Linked DNA regions of Homo sapiens. The protein of the gene in region 5 purifies or fractionates together with the protein of the main gene of each other region. This does not show direct contact. Each region holds a gene or a part of one and is shown on either strand. Other genes may lie near its edges. The genes, in order: JPH1, TRMT2B, PPIH, RAP1B, SCYL3, DDX54 and ARCN1.

Evidence for each region.
Region 1: the proteins of SCYL3 (region 5) and JPH1 purify together in Homo sapiens (affinity purification with mass spectrometry; one large-scale study listed by BioGRID and IntAct). This does not show direct contact.
Region 2: the proteins of SCYL3 (region 5) and TRMT2B purify together in Homo sapiens (affinity purification with mass spectrometry; one large-scale study listed by BioGRID and IntAct). This does not show direct contact.
Region 3: the proteins of SCYL3 (region 5) and PPIH purify together in Homo sapiens (affinity purification with mass spectrometry; one large-scale study listed by BioGRID and IntAct). This does not show direct contact.
Region 4: the proteins of SCYL3 (region 5) and RAP1B purify together in Homo sapiens (affinity purification with mass spectrometry; one large-scale study listed by BioGRID and IntAct). This does not show direct contact.
Region 6: the proteins of SCYL3 (region 5) and DDX54 purify together in Homo sapiens (affinity purification with mass spectrometry; one large-scale study listed by BioGRID and IntAct). This does not show direct contact.
Region 7: the proteins of SCYL3 (region 5) and ARCN1 purify together in Homo sapiens (affinity purification with mass spectrometry; one large-scale study listed by BioGRID and IntAct). This does not show direct contact.

Annotation. Positions count from the first base shown.
Region 1 is NC_000008.11:74,259,041-74,262,540, forward strand, and holds part of JPH1 (junctophilin-1), read right to left. Parts: intron 464-3,500; coding exon 345-463; intron 1-344. UniProt on the Homo sapiens protein: Junctophilins contribute to the formation of junctional membrane complexes (JMCs) which link the plasma membrane with the endoplasmic or sarcoplasmic reticulum in excitable cells.
Region 2 is NC_000023.11:101,049,312-101,053,377, reverse strand, and holds the start of TRMT2B (tRNA (uracil-5-)-methyltransferase homolog B), read left to right. Parts: upstream 1-1,266; 5' UTR 1,267-1,561; exon of another isoform or gene 1,562-1,594; intron 1,595-1,641; exon of another isoform or gene 1,642-1,644; 5' UTR 1,645-2,127; intron 2,128-4,066. UniProt on the Homo sapiens protein: Mitochondrial S-adenosyl-L-methionine-dependent methyltransferase that catalyzes the formation of 5-methyl-uridine in tRNAs and 12S rRNA. Catalyzes the methylation of uridine at position 54 (m5U54) in all tRNAs.
Region 3 is NC_000001.11:42,668,423-42,671,922, forward strand, and holds part of PPIH (peptidyl-prolyl cis-trans isomerase H), read left to right. Parts: intron 1-3,500. UniProt on the Homo sapiens protein: PPIase that catalyzes the cis-trans isomerization of proline imidic peptide bonds in oligopeptides and may therefore assist protein folding. Participates in pre-mRNA splicing.
Region 4 is NC_000012.12:68,659,399-68,662,898, forward strand, and holds part of RAP1B (ras-related protein Rap-1b isoform 1 precursor), read left to right. Parts: 3' UTR 1-3,500. UniProt on the Homo sapiens protein: GTP-binding protein that possesses intrinsic GTPase activity. Contributes to the polarizing activity of KRIT1 and CDH5 in the establishment and maintenance of correct endothelial cell polarity and vascular lumen.
Region 5 is NC_000001.11:169,859,397-169,862,896, reverse strand, and holds part of SCYL3 (protein-associating with the carboxyl-terminal domain of ezrin), read left to right. Parts: intron 1-99; coding exon 100-284; intron 285-3,500. UniProt on the Homo sapiens protein: May play a role in regulating cell adhesion/migration complexes in migrating cells.
Region 6 is NC_000012.12:113,161,479-113,164,978, reverse strand, and holds part of DDX54 (ATP-dependent RNA helicase DDX54), read left to right. Parts: intron 1-693; coding exon 694-912; intron 913-1,704; coding exon 1,705-1,847; intron 1,848-1,933; coding exon 1,934-2,047; intron 2,048-2,981; coding exon 2,982-3,086; intron 3,087-3,500.
Region 7 is NC_000011.10:118,589,409-118,592,908, reverse strand, and holds part of ARCN1 (coatomer subunit delta), read right to left. Parts: intron 2,569-3,500; coding exon 2,403-2,568; intron 201-2,402; coding exon 53-200; intron 1-52. UniProt on the Homo sapiens protein: Component of the coatomer, a cytosolic protein complex that binds to dilysine motifs and reversibly associates with Golgi non-clathrin-coated vesicles, which further mediate biosynthetic protein transport from the ER, via the Golgi up to the trans Golgi network.

The DNA.
Region 1 (3,500 bases), on a different chromosome or scaffold from region 5:
GTGCAAAATTATTAAAAATATACTATAAAATTACCTCCAGGCTATGTGTATAAGGTATCTATGAAACATAAATGAATTTCGTGTTTCAACTTGGGTTCCCAGCTCAAGAGATCTCACTGTGTACATGCAAATACAGAAAAATATCAACAAATCTGAAATCTGAAACACTTCTGGTCCCAAGCACTTCAGATGAAGGATCCTCAACCGCAGGCGCCCTTGCTTGTTTTGTATAATAGTACTGCTGGGATTCAGGAAGCACACATCTTTATGTTGAAAGGAAAAGGAAATAAAAGCAAGCCAAAGCCAGTGCTCCTGCCTCACCCATCAAAGGAGCACTGTTTTACCTGGTTGGTAGAAATCAGGTGACAGCTCCCTGGCCACAGCTCTCGCGATGTCGCACTCCTGGCGAGCGGCCAGCGCGGCCTGGTCGGCGGCATCGGCCTTCGCTCTGGCATGTGCAGTCCTACACGGGGCACAAAAGGACGAGTCAGCATAGGTGACCCCTTGTTACTTACACAGGGACAAGCAAATTGTAATCTGGGAAAAGAAATGTTAATTATGATTATGGCCCGACACCCACAAGAGCAAAAATTTTAGAGTCCTATTGCCGTGAAATTTCAATGAAGATGACATAGATGAAACTAAACTACCCATGAATTGCCTTAGCCCTTCTCTCAAGGGAAATGAAAAGTAAGAGCAAGGTCTGTGTAGCTTGATGCTAAGTGTGGTTTTCAAAACTTACTGGATCAAATCTCCTGTTGACTTTGGTTGGCATTCCTCCCCCCCACCTAAAATTATGGAAAGTAGAATTAGAACATATAAATTAATAGTGTTTATCAAATTCATTTCTACGGTACAATCAATGTAAGAATTTGACTAAGAAAGATCTGCCCACTGGCATGCTGGTGAAGTAGCTCTTTGAAGAAAAAAATTAGTGAAATGGGGATTGGTAGTGTTTATTCATATCCATGTGTAAATGTTCTCACCGTGGCCAATTTCAGGCTACCAGCATAATGCCGTTGGATGTGCAGTGGGGAGATGTGCACTATTGGTGCTCACCAGCAGGAGCAAACCACAAGGCCCGCTCTAAGAACATGCTCAGAAGGGTTCCTGAGGAGCCCATTTAGCTGACTTTTAGGCATGTTTCTTGTATGAACCAAAAAGGAGACAGCGAGGCAGAACTGGCAAGGATGAAATGGATCTTTCAGTCTTCCATCGCCTCCCTGGCCTGTCCTCACTCATGGAAACCTCTCATCTTTCTGGAGGACTAGGGTTATGCGGAAAGTGGCAGGAAAAAGAATAGGGCTTCTTATGGCTGCACCAGGGAATGATGTCTACTGGCCCCAGAGAGGGTTGGAGGGAAGAAAAAAACTCTGGTTTATCTGCTCTGCAAAGGGAAAGGCCTTGTCCCGTTAGTCTTTAGATGTTTATGGGTACCTATTTCTTATGACTTTGTAAATTTTCTATTATATTTTATTAGCACTAGGCAGGGCTATAAATAACTAGCAGTGAAAACTTAATGGAAGTCTGAAAAAGGTGCTTACACTTATGTTGGAGACAGCAGGAGAGAGGAGGAGTTGGGAAAAGGCATGGGCTTTGGATGCTCTTCAGGGAGAACACACGGGCAGCAGCTGGAGGAGGCTGGCAGGCGGAGCTCCTGGGACCAAAACACGGAGGCACCGGGCCTGGCCTGAGACAAGGGGGTCTACTGGTAGGAGGCCCCCTTTTCACATTACTCTCTTCAATAACCTCCTCTTGTCCTGTGCTCTCACGGGACTCCTTTCACTTCTATTTAGGATCTAAGCAAGCCTGAAGGCTTGATGTATTAGAATGTAAGCTTTGTGAAGATTGGAATTTTTAATTTTTGGTCCTCTGTCATAATCCCAAAGTGCAGAACGCTACATTGGCACATACTATTTATTGAGGGACCACTTTATGAATAAAGGAATGAATGATGCTTCCTTAGGAAAAGCTGGGTAGTTCTTAAAACTGAATGGAATGACAAAACCATAGAGACAGTAAAAAGATTCAGAGTTGCTAAGAGTTCGGGGTGTAGTAGGGAAGAATGAATTGGTGGAAAGGAGGGCATATCTGGGGGAGTTTAATTATTCTGCATGATACTGTAGTGGGGGACATTACATATTTGTCAAAATCTATAGACTGTACAACACAAACAGTGAATGAAGCCTGATGTAAACTATGGACTTTAATACTAATATATTAATACCGGTTCATCAATTACACCAAACGCACCTCAAAATGCAAGATGTTAATAATAGGGGATATTGTGTGTGTGCATGAGGAGAGGAGGTGTATGGGAACTTTGCAGTTCCTGTTCAATTTTTCTGATAACTTAAAACTGCTCTAAAAAATAAAGTCATTAAAAATGAGTGGATCAACTTCGAATCATCAAAACTGCTATTTCTAAACCATGGAGGATGCTTTAGATTATTTGTGTATGGGGTATCAAGAAATATGAAATGGAAATAACATCAAGAGGGGAGGGACATATTCTTAAACAACTGGCTGTTGGAATAACCCCTCATGGGTGCCATTGCTGAGGTACGATGGGTAATGCCTTAGTCCTGTGTGTTGTGCCTGATAATCAACAGATGCCCTCCGCTAATGTTCTTTCAGTTTCTCAGAATCTAAACTTTTTTCCCCCAAATGATTTTCCATTTTGTCCGCTATTCTTAGCCAGAGCCTAATTATGTCTAGGTGTCATAATTAATGAAGCCATAAGAGTATAGCTATGCTGCTTTATAATACTATCTATTAGCCCTTTAATGATAAATTTACAAAACTCAAGTACAAGTAACTTATTCGGATTCAATCACGACACACCACCATACAGTCAAATAAAACAGCAGTAGTATATCTACCACTTTTTATAATATGCTAAACTAGAGAATAGACAAATACAGCTTAACCTTTCTGCAAATATATTTTGGAAGCACAGCATCAGTGAAGCCTGCTAGTACTTAACCCTTTACTTTTTTACTTGCTGTTTCCTATAAGACCACACAGCAAAGGAGGACCTTTCTATCCAGCCCAGCTCTGTGGCTCAGTGCTACTGTATAGCTGGCCAGATGAGTCAAGACCACATTCAAACCTGAATCCTGAAGTCTGCTCAAGAGCTTTTGGAACCGATGACAAGAAGGAAGAACAGAAACCCACTCTGAGTTTGCTGTTAACACCAGCCTGTACAGCTAAGGCCACTGGCATGTCTAGATTTTGCCCAGGAATAATCTGGACTTGTCTCTGGCTCATGTTAGTGAATTCATGTGATCACATCCCAGGCTCAGTTCCAGAGTGACACACGACCCCTGTAATCAGTCAATTGCGATTGTTCTTGCGTTGGGGGGTGGGATTCAGGTTAGGCAGTCTGGAGAGATAAGCTGAAACCACTCAAACTGGATGCCCTGATGCTATTGCTGGTCACAGGCAAAAAATGCATACACCAAAGGGGAATACGTGCCCCAAAAGCATTTCATTTATCA
Region 2 (4,066 bases), on a different chromosome or scaffold from region 5:
GGGAGGCTGAGGCAGGAGAATCGCTTGAACCTGGGAGGCGGAGGTTGCGGTGAGCCGAGATCACACCATTGCACTCTAGCCTGGGCAACAAGAGCAAAACTCTGTCTCAAAAAACAGAAAAATAGAAAATAAGTGGCAGATCTGGGCTTTGAATCCTATTCTGACTGACTCAATGTTTGCTGCTATTTGAAGTATTGGGCCTTGTTTAATTTACTACTGTACTCACTAAGGCTAACACATTGCCTTGCACATAATAGGCATGTTATGCTTTGAATAAATATTAATACATGAAATGTTGACTACAAAGTGTTTTCCACTTGAGCACAATTACTATTAAGCATAAAAATTAAATATCATTAAATGTACGTTCACTATTTTTTTTTTTTGAAACGGAGTTTCACTCTTTTTGCCCAGGCTGGAATGCAATGGCATGATCTCAGCTCACTGCAACCTCCACCACCTGGGTTCGAGTGACTCTCCTGCCTCAGCCTCCTGAGCAGCTGGGATTACAGGCGTGCGCCACCACGCCTAGCTAATTTTTGTATTTTTAGTAGAGATGGGGTTTCACCATGTTGGTCAGGCTGGTCTCGAACCCCTGACCTCAGGTGATCCTTCCGCCTCGGCCTCCCAAACTGCTGGGATTACAGGCGTGAGCCACTGCACCCACCTCGGTAGGTTCACTTTGCTGTAAATTTTACTCTATTAAAGCAACAATATTTTACAGCACACAGATGTGTGTATACTTCAAGTTTTCTTACTCGTGGCTGGGCTAATGACTCCTCTAAAAATTAGAGGTATTACTGAATGTAGTCCAGGAGGTAGTGAATCAACCAAAAAGAGACATCTGTCCTCTTTTTGAGTTCTGTAGTTGAAGAAAAAGATTATTTCTGAGGGTTTAGGATTTAATAGTCTTGAGTGGGATCCAGTGAAGAAACTATAAAGTATTTTTCTGATGCAGTGTTAAAAGAGAATGAATGCTTGAGAAACCCCACGGCCCAGAATAGATCTGGCTTTTACCAAAGGATGCCATTTCACGGAACCACCCTGTTTCTCATCTCCCAATCTTCCAACCCGTTAGGGATCTGATGTCTGCAATTCTATCATGAGAAAACTATTCCTTGAGTTGGAAGACTTAAACTGCAAGCACCCCTGGGATGGCTAACGCAGTTAACACTGCAGTGTGAACGTCTTCGTGAGTCTCTTATGTAGATCCACCAATGGGACGGTGAGGAAAGAGCAGGTGGTGGGCGGGGCCCCGGGGAGGGGAGGAGAGGAGAACTTAGAGAAGGAAGGCGGCGGGTGTCAGGGCTATGAGTGCTTTTAAGGAAGGTCTCCATAGAAGGTTCCCCCAGCAAAGTAGGGAGGGGTACTCCCCGAGAGGAGTCGAGGTGCCGGAGCCTGCTGCCTCGCCGACGCTGGGAGGAGCCCCGTGTCCCGCCGCGCTTGCCAAGGGTTGGCTGCGCGTGCGGCGGGAGTAGAGGCGCCTTGCGCACCAGGAAGTGACTGTTTCCCCGCCGCAGCAAACCAGGCCATCCGCTGGCCTTTTAGTTTGCCGCCTCAGGTTTGTAAGAGGATTTATTGGTTACGAAGGAAGGTAAGGTGGATAAATAGCCCGGAAAACCTGATTTAACCCTTGCTTTACAGAAAACTCCCTACTATGCCAAACTGTCCGCGGGGCGGGGAATGGAGGAGGCAGGCGGGGCTGGAGACGGGACCCGACGGTGACTGCGCAAGGTCGTGTACGGCCCAGCGTGGGCCTGTGCCCTAACTCCTCCCACTCCCTTACTTTCTGTCCTTCCCGGGCCCTGCAGACCGGCCAAGTTTAGTGGTAGCCTTTCCTAGTGTCTCCTCTTTGTTAACCCTTCCTACAGACACAGTGGGCAGAACTTGCCTAAAGAAGAAGGGAATGGAAGGGCTAGTGGAGTCTTGTTGGGGAGACAAGGACCTGACTGCCTGTGGGCTGCATTCGGGACACGACACAGCAGTCAACCCATTTGCTTGTTTGGTTTAGCAAGGAATAGTGTCTGGAGCCGGTCCAGCTGAAGGAAGGGTGAGCAGAGAGTGCAAGCAGGACCCTTGTCGGTGGGTGAACATTTTGCTCCAAAAGGGATCCTTGGCCCTGCGCAGGTGAGACCTACCACATAGTCTCTTTGATTTGAACCTCTCTGAGCACAGGAGAGTTAGCCTGCCTTCCTATTTGGGCTACTCTGGACTCCAGGACTCTTCCTGATCAATTCCTGAGGCAGGTATAGAACAGTCGAGCACGACTGCTCACACGCTTTTTTTTTTTTTTGCTGAGGAAAAAACTCCCAAGCATTTTTATTTTTTATTTGTTTGAGACGGAGTCTAGCTTTGTCACCCAGGCTGGAGTGCAGTGGTGCGATCTCGGCTCACTGCAACCTCCGCCTCCCGGGTTCAAGTGATTCTCCTGCCTCAGCCTCTGGAGTAGCTAGGATTACAGGCGCCTGCCACCACGCCCAGCTAATTTTTGTATTTTTAGTAGAGACTGGGTTTCACTCTGTTGGTCAGGCTGCTCTCGAACTCCTGACCTTGTGATCCGGCTGCCTCGGCCTCCCAAAGTGCTGGGATTACAAGCGAGAGCCACCGAGCCTGGCCCCCAAGCATTTATTTTTTATTTTTTATTTTTATTTTTGAGACAGAGTTTCACTCTTGTTGCCCAGGCTGGAGTGCAATGGTGTGATCTCGCCTCACCGCAACCTCTGCCTCCCAGGTTCAAGCGATTCTCCTGCCTCAGCCTCCCGAGTAGCTGGGATTACAGGCGTGCGCCACCACACCCGGCTAATTTTGTACTTTTAGTATAGACAGGGTTTCTCCATGTTGGTCAGGTTGGTCTCAAACTCCTGAGCTCAGGTGACCTGTCAGCCTCGGCCTCCCAAAGTGCTGGGATTGCAGGCGTGAGCCACCGCACCTGGCCCCAAGCACTTATTTAAAACAGGACAAAATATAAAAAGAAAATAGTCTCTTCTGTGAACAAATGTCTCCCCTGACATTAAGAAAGAAACAGAACTCACCTTGACTAGTATGAGTGTGCTGCCTTGAAAAAGAAATTTCACCACAGAAGTTACTAAATATGACAGGCTCTTTACCTAGAATGATGGCTGGTTGGCACCTTGAAATAATAAGGTCCTGTTTTAAACCATACTTGATAATTTGGAAGAGACCTAGATGGACAAGGACCCTCCTGCTGGGGTATAGGGCAAATGAACTACAGTCATGGCAGAGTCACCAGTGAGAGGACCCACACACTCACAAAAAAGTCTAAATGTCGTTGGGGTGGGAATAGCTATCTTCAAATTCCCCAGCTTCCTTGTCCCTCCTCTGCAAATCCTCAAATGGGCCTGCAGTTTCCTTCCTCCTGACTTTCCTGCTGACTGGAGGGACAGGACCCCTCTCCTGGATCAGCTCTACTCCCTTCCCCTGTAGTCTGGGCTTCAAGGCCACTGGCCTTCTCAGACCCACCATGTCATTCTTTATGTCTCTTGCCTCTTCATTCATTTCCTTTCTCTGGCTTTTGCCATCCTCCATATCGAATACGTACATTCTCACAGGCCACACACTTTTTTTTTTTTTTTTGAGAAGGAGTCTCTTGCCCAGGCTGGAGTGCAGTGGTATGATCTCGGTTCACTTTAACCTCTGCCCGGGTTCAAGCAATTCTCCTGCCTCAGCCTGCTGAGTAGCTGGGATTATAGGCGTGCGCCACCACACCCAGCTAATTTTGTATATTTTTGGTAGACAGGGTTTCACCGTGTTGGCCAGGCTGGTCTCGAACTCCTAACCTCAAGTGATCCACCCTCCTTGGCCTCCCAAAGTGCTGAGATTACAGGCCTGAGCCACCCCGCCTGGCTTTTTTTTTTTTTTTTTTTTTTTTTGGAGACAGGGTCTCCCTCCCGGGCTGGAATGCAATGGCACAATCATAGCTCACTGCAGCCTTCAACTGCTGGACTTGTGATCCTTCTGTCTCAGCCTCCTAAGTAGCTAGGACTACAGGTGTGTGCCACCACACCTGGCTAATTTTTAAAACTTTTTGTAGAGACCGGATCTCGCT
Region 3 (3,500 bases), about 130 Mb from region 5:
TCTTCTCTTTCCCATTTGAAAGTTGCAGACTTCTTGACACTTTACCCCTAAGTATTTCAGCAAGGAACTCCTAAAAATAAGAACATCCTACGTAACCACAATATTATCTAATATATAGTACATTTTCAAACCTCCCCAATTGTCCCAAAAGTAACTTTTGTAGCTTAAAAAAAGGTGATCCAATCAAGGTTCCCATATTTCATTTCATTTGGTTTACACAAGTAACATAATACACTCTCATTGTGAAAACTTTCACACCAAACAGATAAAGTGAAAGCCCCTCTTGACAATACCCACCTGCAATTCCACTCCCCTTTCCAAAGGTCACTTCCTTATTAGTTTGATGTATGTCCATCAGGGCCTTTGCCTTGCCCATCTAATTTTGGGAGGTTTTCTTTTTCCCAAATGAAATCATACTATATTTTTCATGTTCTAAAAAATATGTCTTGAAAACTTTTCCTTCTTAGTTCATGTAAAACCACCTTGTATTAAAAAATGAAAACAGCCCGGCAGGAGGTGGCTCACTCCTGTAATCCCAGCACTTTGGGAGGCCAAGGAGGGCAGATAGCTTGAGCTCAGGAGTTCGAGACCAGCCTGGGCAACCTGGTGAGATCCCGTCTTTCCAAAAAAAAAAAAAATTAGCCAGGTGTGGTGGTGCATGCCTGTAGTCCCAGCTACTCAGGAGGCTGAGGTGGGAGGATTACTTGAGCCCAGGAGTTTGAGGCTGCAGTGAGCTATAATCACACCACTGTACTCCAGCCTGGATGACATCAAAAAAAAAAAAAAAAGGAAAAGAAAAACCGAAACTGCAGTGCAGGCTGAGCATCCCTAATCCGAAATCCCAAATGCTCCAAAATATGAAGCTTTTTGAGCACTAACATGACATTAGAAGTGGAAAATTCCACACCTGACTTCATGTGATGGATCATAGTCAAAAATCTGTTTCATGCACAAACGTATTAAAAATATTGTATAAGATTACCTTATACAATAGCTATAAGTAGCTAGGACTACAGGTGCATGCCACCACGCCCAGCTAATTTTTATATTTCTTGGTAGAGATGGGGTTTCATCATGTTGGCCAGGCTGGTCCCCACCTCAAGTGGTCTGCCCACCTTGGCCTCCTAAAGTGCTAGGATTACAGGCGTGAGCCACTGCCCCCAACTGAGCATTAGTTCTTAATTTTATATGTTGTAATTGTTTTCTTCAGAATATATTTTAAGAAAAAAATTAGTATTGTGTTGCTTAAGTTTGGTGATATTCTTTGTTAAAGAGAAGTTCTAAATTTTGATGAAGTCCAAATTATCAGTCTTTCACTGCTTTTCAGTTTTGTCTCATTTAAGGTCTTTACTACCTCAGATCACAATGTTTTCTGTGTTTTTTCTAGTATTTCTTTTTATATGGTGGAGCTAAGATCATTTTTCTAGTATTTTTAAAGTCTTATTTGTACATTTATAAAATCATCTATAATTAATTTTTCTGTATAGTGTTAAGATAGGACTTTTTCTTGTCTTTTTTTCCAAATGGAGATCCAGTCAAATACCTGACCATTTTAATGACTCTACAACACACCTTTATCTGTGACCAACTCTGTTCAGAAAGCTGGCACTTACAGGCATTCAGTAAAAATTTATTACATGAGTTAAGTAGAGAGGGAGAATGTCAGGCATTTTAGGCGGGGAACTCGTGTGAGCAAATGCTGAGGCTGGAATGCACAAGTGTGTGCTGAGAGCTACATGTGGACCTCTCTTGTTCAGCCAGATGATCCCTTCTCAGGCCCACTTGACACCCTGAGCTTTCCTTTCTGCCAATACTGGGTCCCCCTTGGGCCCAGCCTGCTCTCCCTCTTCAATGGCTGCTGGCCATTCCCTCCGTCTCCTACTCATTTCTTTGCTGTAACTAAAGTTGAGTTCATAGGTCCTTTCTTTTCAAAGACTGACCACTGATCACTACCAGAGGACAAACGATAACAAAAAGAATAAAGTTTAGAAATTCTTAATGTTGGGGCCTCTTTTCTGTATCTTTTTGAGTCTTTTACATAAAGTTACTGGAAGTCCTTGTTGAGGTTTTATTTCTGAGGGTGGGGATCATCAACCCTCCCCGCTCTCCCCCACTGTTAGCAAAAGTTATATGAACTTTTGCTTCCAAGAAAGCCCTTCTTCTCAGCCTGCAACCCAAGCAGAACGCATTCCTCAGGTGGCCATTGTACATTCCACAGGCCCGCTAGACCAGGACTGTCCATAGGCTGTGATGATGGAAAGATTCTAGATCTGGGAGGTCCAGTATGGTTGCTACCAGCCCCATGTGACAACGGAACACTTAAAATGTGGCTGGTGCAACTGAGGGACTAAACTGTTAACTTTTTATTTTTTATTTATTTTTTATTTTTTTGAGATGGAGTCTCGCTCTGTCGCCCAGGCTGGAGCACAGTGGCGCCGTCTTGGCTCACTGCAACCTCTACCTCCCGGGTTCAAGCAATTCTCCTGCCTCAGCCTCCTGAGTAGCTGGGATTACAGGCGCACGCTGCCATGCCTGGCTATTTTTTGTATTTTTAGTAGAGACGGGGTTTCATCGTGTTAGCCATGCTGGTCTTGAACTCCTAAGCTCAGGTAATCTGCTCATCTTGGCCTCCCAAAGTGCTGGGATTATAGGCGTGAGCAAACATTCCCAGCCTATTTTTTTTTTATTGACAGAACTAAGCTGTAGTTTATTAAATTTAAATTAGGCTGGATGTGGTGGCTCACACCTGTAATCCCAGCACTTTGGGAGGCCGAAGCAGGTGGATCGCTTGAGGCCAGGAGTTTGAGACCAGCCTTGCCGACATGGTAAAACCCATCTCTACTAAAATTACAAAAATTAGCCGGGCGTGATGACACACGCCTGTAATCCCAGCTACTCCAGAGACAAAGGCACGAGAATCTCTTGAACCCGAGAGGCAGAGGTTTCAGTGAGCCAAGATTGTGCCATTGCACTCTAGCCTGGGCGACAGAGCGAGACCCTGTCTCAAAAATAAATAAGTAAATAAAAAAATAATAAATGTAAAGAGCCAGTTGTAGCTAGTGGCTACTGTACTGGACAGTGAACTCTTTTAAATGTAAGCTTCTCAATCTACTCGCCCTGGCTTGCTTAGAACTGAATCTCGTAGCTAATACTTAAGGGCACTATAATTAAAGCAGTTATCCTTCAATGAATTCTTCCTGTGCCCGGATAATGAGCTAAGAACTTTACTTGAATTATCGCATTTCACTTTACCAAAAATCCCTCATAGGTTTTAAGGTGTTAGGAAATCTGGGTGGCAGTCTAATGTAAAGGGGTTCTACAGATGGGCACCCCATTTTGGGTTTCTGAATAATGTGATTTAAGAAAAATTAATGAAAGAGGAGATGAATTTCCCATGGAGCAGGGGTGTGGAGGGAAGGGAAGTGGTATTTTTAAGCCCTATTGGGCAGTATTTCTTTCTTTCTTTTTTTTTTTTTTTCGAGACGGAGTCTTGCTCTGTC
Region 4 (3,500 bases), on a different chromosome or scaffold from region 5:
ATCAGTTTGCACATTCTAATCACTTTCCAGTATCACAAGAGAGATTTTTACTTATATAATAGTCCTAGAGTTTGCAGCTGGTAAAACCAGAGGCTACATCCAGTATTACTGCTAAGAGACATTCTTCATCCACCAATGTTGTACATGTATGAAAATGGTGTACTGTATACTTTAACATGCCCCATACTTTGTATTGGAGAGTACAATAATGTAAATCCTAAAAGCACCACTATTTTAGCATAATAAAAGAAAGTCCAAAGAGCTCCTATATAGACTACTCCAGATAACTTCGCTTCTTTGATACTTGTAGCTTATTGTAATTTTTTTTAAGAAATTCAAGGTCATTATTATTGTACAAAATAAGCGCTTTGATTAACACAGCTATATAGTTTTTTTAATTTTTAAAAAACCTGTGGAGACGGTGATCTTGTCTTTAAAACATGATAGTCCTTTCAGTATAATGTCTTAGATTAAAGACGTTGCCTTTAATATCTGTTGGGAAGGAAATGTCCAGACTTTTCAAATCTCTTATTATATGTTTCCTTTTTTTGTTTACATAGGGAACAATGTTTATAGTCGTGTGTACAGTGGGGGTCTACAACAAGAAGTGTATATTTTCAAACAATTTTTTAATGATTTAACAATTTTTGTAAATCATTTTCAGGCTTCTGCAGCTGTAGATTCTCACTGTGAATCCCTTGCTTGCTCATGCATAAGTGTATTTGCAATACCAAATATACAGGTTTAGTATTTTTGCCTGTTAGTGATTGTTTCACATGTGTAACGTTTTGGTTGAGATGTTAAATGGTGGACGAGTACTGTGGATGTGAATGTGGGAAGTAATTTTAATCATATGTAATTGGTCACAAGGCCTAATTTGCAGTAACTATTGCTGTTTTATTTAACAATGCCTTGTTGCTTTGTATGCATTAATGTTTGGATGTAAAGATTGTGTGTCTATCCAACAGGGAGCCACAGTATTTAAATTGACCAACCTAATGTTACAACTACTTTGAGGTGGCCAAATGTAAACTAAAAGCCTTAATTAAAGTGGTGCAATTTTGTATAACTTAGCATCAGTAGTTCAATAAATTTGGATTGCCATGCAAGGGCTTGCATTATAATTACTTGCCACTTGAATGTGTTTTGTGTAATGTTTTAACAGTGCTAGTAAATAAATACGGGTTTACCCTGGTTTTAATTGTAATAGGTGCATTTTACACAGCATGGTTTCATAATTTAACATCTGGGCAAGCCAGACTCATTAATTACAGGAATAAGGAAGTAGCGAGTTTTCTGGTATTGTTTGAATATCCACATAACCACCTTTTGAACTTTTCCTTGAGAAATAATTTTGTAAATCAAGCAGTATTACTTACGAATAAATGCCTTTGGGTAATGTTCAGTAGCTATTTGATGAGGTAGGTAAAAGAGGAACGATTTAACATACTTTCATGGATGTTACACTATGGATTTTTTAAAATACAGGATTGAAGTTAGAATATTGTGGTTATAAAAATCTTTGAGTGATGTGGATTAAGCACTTAGAGAATCGATATTTTTCTTAAATATGCTATAATTGAATTCTGTAAGAACTGAATTCTTATAGAATTATTTTAAAACTTTTTAAAAATTGTAAAGCTCTTAAAAAACTTTTTGAAAGTATTTGCCAGCTACTGGAGCAATTAATCAGTGATAATATCTAATAGAGGGGTATCTGCTAATCCCCTAAATACACGCTGTTTGAATGATACATTTTTAAAGGCTTTCATGTTAAGAAAAAGTCTGATTCTTTACAAAAGGGACTTGTTTTGGCAGAACTGGTTTTATTTATAATCATTTGGGAAAAAAATTAAGCCCAAAAAACTGGGACTGTGAAACACTAAAATTACTTCAATTTACTATGTCCTGTTACATCCATTGATACCGCCATTATTCAATAATTACTTTTAATAAATGTTTGCTGCCTACCAGCTATGTACCAGGCCCAGTTCTAGGCTCAAACAGCTAAATATTCATTCATTGGACAAATTAAGTACTTAAGTATAAAAATTGTTCTAGGCCTAAGGATGTAGCAGCAACCAAGATCAACTATAAAATGCTGCCCTCCTAGAATTTATATTCTATTGAAGAGTTTCTCAGCCTCAGCACTATTGATGTTTTATGTTTGATAATGTATTCTGGCGACTCTCCTGTGCATTATAGGAATTTTAATATCTGCCCACTAGATGCCAGTCACACCACCCCAGCCCCCAAGTTGTGGCAACCAAAAATGTTTCCAGACATTGCCAGATGTTCCCCAGTTGGATTGTTGGGGGACAAGGGAGGTGAACTTGGAGGGCAAAATCACCCTGGTGAAGAACTACTGCTCTGGTGGGAAACAACACATTAGTTACAGATGAGTGTTAGGGTTACAAGATGGATGGTTTACTATATAGTGAATAAGAATATAAAGTTTGGAGCCAGACTTCCTGGGTTTTTAATCCCAGCTCTTCCAGTTCCTACTATATGCCTTTGGTTGGGTGCCTTGGTTTCCTCATCTGTAAAATGAGAATGATAATACCTACTTCATAGGAGAGTGAAATGAATGCCAGTGCTATCCTCTAGGTCTATATATATATATATATATATATATTATATATAGTACATATATAGAGAGAGTATATATATATATGTAGTACAGTGGAGGTCTATATAATACTATATATATAATTTATTTTTTTCAATGCTGATAGGAATAAGGCTGTGGTTTGGCAAAAAGCACCATTTTCTCCTATACAAAATAGTAACTGCAGTTTGGGAGCACAACTCATGTAGATTGACTTTTCTGGTGCTTAATGGGAAAATACTAAAATAATTGAGTCAGAAAAGGCATGAATTCCTTTTCACGTCCCCAAGGATACTTGAAGAAACTTGAGTTTTAGGAGAAAATCAGAGTGGTCTTTCACTTACATTTTTCTAAAAAGTGTAAAAACCCTGTATTGACTTTCTTGTTGATTCAGTTGTTTCTTAAACGTAAATAGCTCATCTTTACCATATGTGGGCATTACAAATAGAAATTTTTAAAATTCCATTTATAAAATGAAGTTTTGCCGTTTTTTTTTTTAAATCATTCCGTCTTTAGTTGTGGGACAGCAAACTTAGAATCGAAACTCATCACTACAACTTTTCTTTGAGTTAAACTCTTATCTGTGTTTTCATTGAATTTAATCTCCATCTATTCTATCTCTTCTTAAATCTTGGAAATGTAAAAGGGAGTTATAGTGTTTTACAATTAATACTCTTACTATTACCTTAGAAGCCTTAAAAGTGCTTGCAGGCTTGTCTCATAATCTGTCAGTGAGCCTTAACATTGTGATTTGTAAGACTAAAATTTTTTTTTCAAACAAAACAAATCTGACAGCCTGGGCAACATAGACCCCATCTCTACAAAAAAAAATTTTTTTTTAATTAGCTGGGCATGGTGGTGCACGTCTGTACCTGTAGTCCCAGCTATTCAG
Region 5 (3,500 bases):
ATATGTGTAGTTTTGGGTTCAGTGTATGAATTATGCTTAATACTTTTCACTGAAATGAAAATTTGTTTTTTCATCTGTAACCTTTGATTTTTCGGGTAGATCATGCGCAGGGAGAAACTCCTTGCTTGCTCTCACCAGCCCTGTTCCAGTCACGGGTGATCCCCGTGCTTCTCCAGTTGTTTGAAGTTCATGAAGAGCATGTGCGGATGGTGCTGCTGTCTCACATCGAGGCCTACGTGGAGCACTTCACTCAGGAGCAGCTGAAGAAAGTCATCTTGCCACAGGTCAGAGGCCAAGTTTGCAGTGGGGTAGTCACAGAACCTGAGGGAAGAGTGCTGAAAGAAAGAGTTTTGGAGGTATTCAGATAATAGCTTAGAAAGCCTTCAGGCAGCAGTCTGTGGAATACAAAGTGCTGAAATTAAAATTGCATTTCCATTCCATTCACACAGGCAAATTGATTAAACTGACATATTTGGTCTTAACCTGGGAGAAACTATAATTGTTTGTTAATTTTGGGAGGGTAAATGAATAACAATAATGTATGGAGCACTTTGTGAACATAACATATAATTATCCATAATTATTATAAAGTAATTAAATTAGAACAGAGAGGAGCATGAGATGATTCTTATCAGTGGCTTTCAGCCTGTTGTTATCAGCCACTAGGGAACCTTATTATGATTTGCCCACCAAAGGGTTTTGTTAGTGAAACTAATGAAAGGTTTGTATTAGTTGCTTAGGCTGCCATAACAAATTATCACAAATTATAATGGCTTAAAGCAATACAAATTTATTTTTAGTTCTGGAGGCCAGAAGTCTAAAACCAGGGTGTCAACAGGACCCTGCTTCCTCTGAAGGCTGTAGGATGTGAAAGGGACTCCTCTTTACAAGCTTCTCGTAGCTCCCAGCAATCCTTGGTATTTCTTGGCTTGTGGCTGTATCATTCCAGTCTCTGCTTCTGTTGTCACGTGGCCTTCTTACCTCCTTGTCTGTCTTTACATGGCCTCTTAGAAAGACACCAGTCATTGAATTTATGGCCTACCCTAACCCAGTATGACCTCATCTAAAGGTCACATTCTGCATGGACATGAATTTTGGAGGGACACTATTCAACCTAGTATGAGGTTTTAAAAAAATTGTTTTAAAAGACTACAATCACATGGTGTCTTTCAAATAATTTTCCTATGAGATAGATTAACATTCTCTCTGCTTTCAAGGAGCTCATAAGTGGGACATGTTTCAGTCATCCGTTGCCATGTAAGTACCCCAAAACTTAGTGCCTTAAAATAATAATCATTTTATTAATTCTCATGATTCTTTGGATTGACTGGACTCAGCTGAAGGTTCTGTTCCACATATCAGCTGAGTCTTCAGTCATCTGGGGCCCGACAAGGGTTGACACATCCAAAATGGCTCCTTGGTATCTTGGAAGGGGTGGCTGAGAGGCTGCGCCTTTCTCTCCATGAATTTTCAGGAAGCTTGGGGGGCTTGTATCCCCCCATGTGACATTTCCACATGATTTCTCTAGCAAGGCAGGTGGACTTCTTAAATGGCTGGCCAGGGCTAAAGAAAAAAAAAGGGCAAAAGAAGCCTTCTTAAAGTGTAGGTTGTGAACTGACAGTCATTTTTGCCTCATTCTCTCGGTTAGAGTTGGAAAAAGCCCAGGCTCATTGTGGGATGGGTTTACTCAAGGGCATGGATACTGGAGGTGTGATTCGCTGGGGGCTGACTTTAAAGTCTCTGTGTTGTAGTAACTACAACATAGCACTTTGTATTTACATCTGCAGCAGTAATTGTTACCCTGTATGTAGTTGTGTCTGGAAATTTAGAAGAGGAATGAAGCACTTTAACTCTGAAATGGAGTTGTCATCATAGGTCTCAGAATTGGACTGAGGTCAAAGAGTAAATGTTGAGCATGTGGAAGACAATGAAACCTCTCATTACTTAGGAAACTGCTTCCCCTAAAGAAGAGTGGGCCAATTTGTGTGTGCTAGAAAGTTCACTTTGGTAGCAGTGTGGAAGAGACCACAGAAAGGGAGATAAGCTAGGAAGCTGTTAGAATAGTTTAGCTAAGAGATGACAAAGGCTGGGGAAAGTGTGACAGTGGATATAGTAGAGGGACACAGAAGGGGTAGTACTCAGTTTCTCATTAGATGGAAGAGGTGTTGAGGATGACCAATTTTTGGCTTGGGCGGATTGCTGTTTTATGATTATCATATTCAGTGGGCAGAACTCTAATCATATGTAAAAGAAACATGCTTTAGTTTACATGTACAGAAAGTGATCTGTTAGCATTGGTCCTAATAATTATCTTTTGAGTCCTGTTGGAAACCTTTAATCTTACTATATAAATGAGGAAACCAGGCCAGAAAAATAAAAAGACCAATTGGTCAAGTCACATTGAGAATTATTAGCAGAGCTAAGACCAAAACCAAAGATTCCTGATACCTGTCACGCCCTGCTGCTTCCAGTAGGCAGGCCAGTTACCCTGGCCTTGTGTCTGGCTGGTGCAGATGCTTTGAAGGTCATTTCCTTCCTTATATGCAGAGCAGTACTTGCCTGATATCTGCATGTGACTGTCTTCTAAGGTGTTTTTGGTTGCAAGTAACTGAAACTCATTTTAAACCAGCCAAAGCAAAAAAAATTTAAGAATGTTAGACTAACTTAGATGGAAATCAAGTGCAGCTGGGGCTTACAGCCATGTTTTTCATTCCTTTCTTCTGTCTGCATTTGTTTGACTTTTGACTCTCTGAAGACCAGCTTTCCTTGTTTTGGTGTGCACATGGCCAAAATGGTTGTCCCATAACTTCCAAGTTTTCTGTCCTCATAAAAAAAAATTATTTTAGAGATGGGGGTCTCACTGTGTTGCCCAAGCTAGAGTGCAGTGGCTCTTCACAGGCATGAACCCACTACCGATCAGCCCAGGAGTTTGACCTGCTCCATTTCCAACCTGGGCTGGTTCACCCCTCTTTAGGCAACCTGGTAGTCCCCAGCTCCTGGGAGGTTACTATATTGATGCTGAATTTAGTGCAGACACCCAATCAGCATAGCACACTACAGCCCAGAACTCCTGGGCTCAAGTGATCCACATGCCTCAGCCTTCTGAGTAGCTCGGGCTACAGGCACTTGTCCCTGCCTGGCATACTGTCCTCATTGAGTAAACCTATATAAACTGAAAATATAAATTCTAGTTTATATTACTGGACAAAAGATCATGATGGGCTCAGTTTGGGACAGGTGGTCCTACCCTTGAAAAGAGCTGAAAAGAGAAGCATGGACAGGAACATAACTGTTAGTACCCTAGATGAGTTCTGAGTGCGCTCTGCAGAACACTGCCAGTACATGAACTTTTTATTACAGTTCTGTGATGTGAGTACAGATATGAAGACTTAACATTTAAAACCTTTTGTCGCAATTTGACAGAGTAATTTTATGTACCCAACATATGTCTTTTTAATTTTGTTTTGATTGTATTTTTTAAAAATGGTAAGTCTGTGATG
Region 6 (3,500 bases), on a different chromosome or scaffold from region 5:
CATGGCTCACTGCAGCCTTGACCTCCTGGGCTCAAACGATCCTCCTATCTCAGCCTCCTGAGTAGCTGGGACTACAGGTGCATGCCACCACACCCAGCTATTTTTTTTTATTTTTTGTAGAGATGAGGTCATGTTGCCTAGGCTGCTCTCAGACCCCTGGGCTCAGGTGATCCTCTTGCCTCAGCCTCCCAAAGTGCTGAGATTACAGGCGTGAGCCACGGTGCCTGGCCTGGGTCTCTCTGTGTTTTTGTTTGGTTTTGTTTTTGAGATGGAGTCTCGCTCTGTTACCCAGGCTGGGGTGCAGTGGTGCAATCTCGGCTCACTGCAACCTCTGCCTTCTGGGTTCAAGTGATTCTCCTGCCTCAGCCTCCTAAGTAGCTGGGACTACAGGTGCCCACCACCACACCTAGCTAATTTTTGTATTTTTAGCAGAGATGGGGTTTCGCCGTGTTGGCCAGGCTAGTCTCGAACTCCTGACCTCAAGTGATCCACCCGCCTCAGCCTCCTCAAGTGCTGGGATTACAGGCATGAGCCACTGCGCCTGGTCTGGGTCTGTCTATCTAATTGTGAAGTGCAGATAATGGACACTGGGGAAGACTTGGGGAAGAACGCCCATAGGAAGCCCACCAAGTGGTAAGGGTGGGGTTAGGAGTAGGAGGCCAGTGGGCAAAGGACTGGGTGTCCCCTCCACAGACTATCTTTGAGATCAACGCCTCCAGCCGAGACCTGTGCAGCCAGGTGATGCGCGCCAAGCGGCAGAAGGACCGCAAGGCCATCGCCCGCTTCCAGCAGGGACAGCAGGGGCGGCAGGAGCAGCAGGAGGGCCCAGTGGGCCCAGCCCCGAGCCGCCCAGCACTGCAGGAGAAGCAGCCTGAGAAGGAGGAGGAGGAGGAGGCGGGAGAGAGTGTGGAGGTACAGGTTCCACCCTGGGGACCCTGGACCTGGGGTATGGGGAAGGGGTGGCTAAGTCCCAGCAGCCCATGAGGCTGTCCTAGGATCTTTGAGCAGTGGATGGAGGTGGATGCAGTCAGCTTCCCATCTGCAGAGTCGGGGCATGGTTCTTGTCCACCATCCCTCGTTTAAAACTCTGGGGCCAGATCTTTAGCCTGAGGAGCTGTGCACGACATGACACCCTCAGTGGGGTCCGGGGCATCACCAGCCACCAAACACATCAGGGCTTCTGCAGTGAGACGTGTAGGTCTCCACTCAGAGGGAGGACCATGAAGTGTCCCATTCACCTGGTGGGTGGGTCCTGGGCCTGTGCGTCCCCCAGGATGTCCCTCTCTCATGTTTTGTTTGGACAGAGGGTTCAGTAGCCAAGAAGACCAGTTGGAGACCCCTGGCCTAGTCCATGTTGTTCAGAGCAGGCCAGGCGCAGAGAGGGGCAGGGCCGGCTGTCACATAGCCTGGGGTGCGGAGCTGGAATGGGGAGTTGGGTCTCCCTCGGCCGGCACTCTCCTCCTCACCCAGCTGTCCTGCCTCTGCTGGTCCCTGAGGCAGGGGTTGCACTGTGTGTGCAGATGAGGAAACTGAGGGTCCCACAGGAGACACTGTCACCCAGCTAAGAAATGGCAAAATGAAGCTTTGAAAGTCCCCGAGAAGCCACTGGCCCCTCACTGTGGCCAGGCTGGTGGGTAGGGAGGCAGGGGGAAGTCCCCAGGGGGCAGCAGGCATGACACTGGGCCTTGGTCTGTGCTCTGCCAGGACATTTTCTCAGAGGTCGTGGGCCGGAAGCGGCAGCGGTCAGGACCCAACAGGGGAGCCAAGAGGCGGAGGGAGGAGGCCCGGCAGCGGGACCAGGAATTCTACATCCCCTACCGGCCCAAGGACTTTGACAGCGAGCGGGGGTGAGTGGCTGGCTGGGTCCTGGGTGGGGCAGTTGGGTCCGCTGGGTCCCATCAATCCAATTATGTCTCCCACTCTCCCTCTGCAGCCTGAGCATCAGCGGGGAAGGGGGAGCCTTTGAGCAGCAGGCAGCTGGCGCTGTCCTGGACTTGATGGGGGATGAAGCCCAGAACCTGACGAGGGGCCGGCAGCAGCTCAAGTGGTGAGTGATCGAGTGAGCCGCCCCTCCATGCTCGGGGTGAGTGACCGAGTGAGCTGCTCCTCCGTGCCTGGGGTGAGTGATCGAGTGAGCCGCCCCTCCCTCCATGCCCGGGGTGAGTGAGTGAGTGAGCCGCCCCTCCATGCCCGGGGTGAGTGATCGAGTGAGCTGCCCCTCCAGGCCCAGGGTGAGTGAGAGAGTGAGCTGCCCCTCCATGCCTGGGGTGAGTGAGCGAGTGAGCCTCCCCTACCTCCATTCCCTGAAGTGAGTGAGCGAGTGAGCCGCCCCTCCATTCCCTGGGGTGAGTGAGCGAGTGAGCCACCCCTCCAGGCCCAGGGTGAGTGATCGAGTGAGCTGCCCTCCATGCCAGCAGGCAGGGTGAGCTCCCTGAAGTCCTCACTCCCATCTGATCCTGCACAGCCCAGATTATGGCCTGGCTGTCCCCCATGTGACCACTCACAGCAGGTGTGATGGCCCCTGGCTGTGCTGTCCCCTTGATTTGATCACACACCACAGAGATCTTGACCCCGTCTATTCTTTTTGCTGGCAAGTCTTTCTAGACAGGGCTCAGGACCCATTCGTTCAGGACTCTAGCGTCTGGAGAGTGTATGTGACTCAACCCAGGGTCACAGCTGGGTAGGGGGAGGGGATTGGAAACCCTCCAGGAGGCCCTTGTCCCTGAGCCAGGCCCCAGTGCTGGCGGCAGTCCTCTGACCTCCGCACTCCCTTTTGAGACCTGGACTGCAGGGAGAGGTGAGGAGGGATAGGGAAGAAGCCTTTATTGAGCGCCAACTGCATGCCAGACATGGCTGCACTGCTTTCCTTTAATGCTCCAACAACCTGACAAGAGGGTCGGGTGAGGAGACAGGCCCCAAGCGGCAGCCGGCACTCCAAGGGTTTCCCTCCACGGCAGCCGTCCCAACTCCCTCTCCTGCAGGGACCGTAAGAAGAAGCGGTTTGTGGGACAGTCAGGACAGGAAGACAAGAAGAAGATTAAGACAGAGAGCGGCCGCTACATCAGCAGCTCCTACAAGCGAGACCTGTATCCTGAGGGGCGTGGCTGGGGAGGGGCGGGGCCGAGGAGCTTCAGCAGGAGCAGCTTCAATTAAGTGGAACCTGGGGGCGGGGGCGGGGGCGGGGAGGAGGGGGCGGGGCTGAGCGGCTTAAGCAGCCGCATCTCCAATAGATGGGACCTGGTGCTGGGGGCGGGGCCGAGCAGCTTCAGCAGCAGCATCTCGAACTAGTGGGACCTGTGCTGGGGGCGGGGCCCAGCAGCTTCAGCAGCAGCATCTCCAGTAAGTGGGGCCTGTGCTGGGGGCGGGCCCAGCAGCTTCAGCAGCGGCATCTCCAATAAGTGGGACCTGGTGCTGGGGGCGGGGCCGAGCAGCTTCAGCAACAGCATCTCCAATAAGTGGGACCTGTGTGCTGGGGGCGGGGCCGAGCAGCTTCAGCTGCG
Region 7 (3,500 bases), on a different chromosome or scaffold from region 5:
TTTCTAGTTCTCAATGCAAACTAGCTTAGTGGGACTGGCCAGAGGCACTTACTTGTCAGTGGAATAAAAGATTCCTCTGTGGTTTGTAGTCTCCACTTTAGCACCCCTACGTCACTGTTGACTGGAAATGACTTCTCTGGATTCTTCAGGCCAATTAGAGACTCTGCAGTGAAAAGTTTTTTATCCACATTTGGATGGGTCTAGAATGAGAGGGAAAGGAAAACTCCTGAGGTTCAGATAGACGAGAAACAACCCCTCACTAGGCTTATATGGCCCACAATCTAAACATCCAAAATAGAGTACCTAACAAATTCCAATTCTTTTTCATTTTGAAGAAAGATTTCCCTTCTTCAAAGACTTATTTTAAAATGATTTAAGATACTTAAAAACTAGTAATTTTTTAAAAAAAAAGCTAATTTCAACTCTAAAAGCCATTACAGAACAAGTTTGCACCTGAAAAAGTTAAAAGACTATTAACCAAGTTCTTTCCAAAAATACTTCACAGGGAGCAGGTTCATGGTGGGGCCAGGTTTGCCAAGCAGAAGGCTCCAGTAAGACCCTGATCAGCTGCCTGGGTCAGACAGCAGTTCTGGCCTTATATAAAGTAGCAGAAAAGGGCAAGCTCTGTGTAAAGTCTAGTTGCAATTTTGCCTAGAGACTTAAAGTTGTTAAAATCCAAGCCAATTAAGATAGTCTTATCTTTTTAAAAGAAATTGCTTTTGGGGAGGCTGAGGTGAGAGGGGCATTGAAGGTCAGGAGTTTGACATCAGCCTGGCCAACATGGCAAAACCCTATCTCTATTAAAAATACAAAAGTTAGCTGGGGCTGGACATGGTGGCGCACGCCTGTAATCCCACCTACTCGAGAGGCTGAGGCAGGAGAATGGCTTGAACCCGGGAGGCAGAGGTTGCGGTGAGCCGAGATCACACCATTGCACTCCAACCTGGGCAGGAAGAGTGAAACTCCGTCTCAAAAAATAAAAAATAAATAAATAAATAAATAAATAAATAGCTGGGTGTGGTGGTGCACACCTATAGTTCCAGCTACTATGGAGGCTGAAGAGGAAGCATTGCTTGAGCCTAGGAGGTTAAGGCTGCAGCGAGCCAAGGTTGTGCTGCTGCACTCCAGCCCGCATGACAGAGAGAGACTGTGCAAAAACAAAAAAAAAAACAAAAAAAAGAACAAAAAAACAAGACAAAAACAAAAAAAACCCAGAAGGGCTGGGCATGGTGGCTCATGACTACAATCCCAACACTTTGGGATGATGAGGTGGGCGAATCATGAGGTCAAGAGTTCGAGACCAGCTTGGCCAACATGGTGAAACCCCATCTTTACTAAAAATAAAAAAAATTAGCTGGGCATGGTGGCAGGTGCCTGTAATCCCAGCTACTCAGCAGGCTGAGGCAGGAGAACTGCTTCAACTGGGGAGGCAGAAGTTGCAGTGAACCAAGATCGTACCACAGAACTCCAGCTTGGGCAACAGAGAGAGACTCCATCTCAGGAAAACAAAACAAAACAAAACAAAACAGAAATCACTTTTGGATAGCACTTTACAAGCCAGCAAAAATGTCAAATAATATAAGCACTGCTTCCAAAAGACAATTCTGTGCTGACTACGGTGGGGAAAGTAGACAAAAACACTCTTCCGTAAAAAGGCTTTGTTCTTGTGACGAGATGTCGGCTAAATGAAATGAAATTACAAGAACACCTGTAACATAAAGCAGGGCTTATATATATCTATCCAATAGTTGGAACACACACACTTATATTGAAAGGATTTTATGTACTTTTCAAATACACCATTAGATACTGCCCTTCAGTTAACAAAACAAGCACTGGCAGTTTATTTAATAGCAGAATGAGTAAATTTCGCATTGTGCCACCACGCCTGGCTAATTTTTTAAGTTTTTGTAGAGATAGGGTCTTGTTGCTCAGCCCTCATTGCTCAGGCTGTTCTTGAACTCCTGGGCTCAAGCGATCCTTCAGCCTCAGCCTCTCAGAGTGCTGGTATTATAGGCATGAGCCACCACACTTGGCCTAAAGCCTTGTTTTTTTAAAACTGTATTTCAAGCAAGATCCTAAGTGATTAATTTACTGTTTTCATAACAGCAAAAGACAAACACCTCCTTGTACCTTTTATTGGTGAGTATGAAGTCATTTATTAGATTTCGAAATGACCTTTTATTCAATTCCAATATTTAAAAGCCATCCTTACACAGCTGCTTTACTCACTCTCAGGTAGCTACTGTATGCAATATATTAACTTCTTTCCTAAGCGTTTAGAGTGATGCTAGTTATATAACTTAAGTAATTTTCTGTGGTTCATATTGGGAACTCTAGTTGAGAAAGACTATAATAGGTAGACAAAGTGTTAATACTCCCTATCAAAAGCTTCTACACACCTGTAGCTGCACCCCTTTCTTATCTTCATTTTCCACATGAAGACGAATTCGGCCATACTTGTCATCTGAGATCCTAAGCATGATCATGCCATGCAACTCCATATTCTGTAATCCTCCGTCTCGTCCACAGGTTAATGTTATCTTTTCTTCAATCTTCATATGTACACTATAAAGAGAAAGTAATACATTTGTTCAGAAAGGTAGAAACCAATGGCCGGGCGTGGTGGCTCATGCCTATAACCCCAGCACTTTGGGAGGCCAAGGCGGGCAGATCACCTGAGGTGGGGAGTTCGAGACCAGCCTGACCAACATGGAGAAACCCCGTCTCTACTAAAAATACAAAATTAGCCAGGCGTGGTGGTGCATGCCTGTAGTCCCAGCTACTTGGGAGGCTAAGGCAGGAGAATCGCTTGAACCACGAGGCAGAGGCTGTGGTGAGCCGAGATTGTCCCACTGCACTCCAGCCTGGGCAACAAGAGTGAAACTCTGTCTCAAAAAATAAAAAAGAAAAGAAAAGAAAAAAGAAAGGTAGAAATCAGAACTCCCTTTCTCCAAGGTCTAATGATTAGCCATCAACAACGTTTTTTTAAAGGTGCTACTGCTATAGCTATCAACATTTAAAAGGCGATACCCTTTGATACAGCAATTCTTCAACAGACTCTATCCTACAGATAAATTCTCACCTGTGCAAAACAATCTGCTAAGTTATTCACTGAAGAATTGTTTGTAATGGCAAAAGTTTAGAAACATGTCTGCCAATAGGGGGCTGCTCAAATAAAGGCATATTCACGGGCGTGGTGGCTCACGCCTGTAATCCCAGCACTTTGGGAGGCCAAGGCGGGTAGATCACGAGGTCAGAAGATCGAGACCATCCTGGCTAACATGGTGAAACCCCACCTCTACTAAAAATACAAAAACAAAATTAGCCGGGTGTGGTGACGGGCGCCTACTCAGGAGGCTGAGGTGGGAGAATGACGTGAACTCAGGAGGCGGAGCTTGCAGTGAGCCGAGATGGTGCCACTGCACTCCAGCCTGGGCAACAGAGTGAGACTCTGTCTCAAAAAAATAAAAAATAAAAAATAAAGGCATATCCACCCG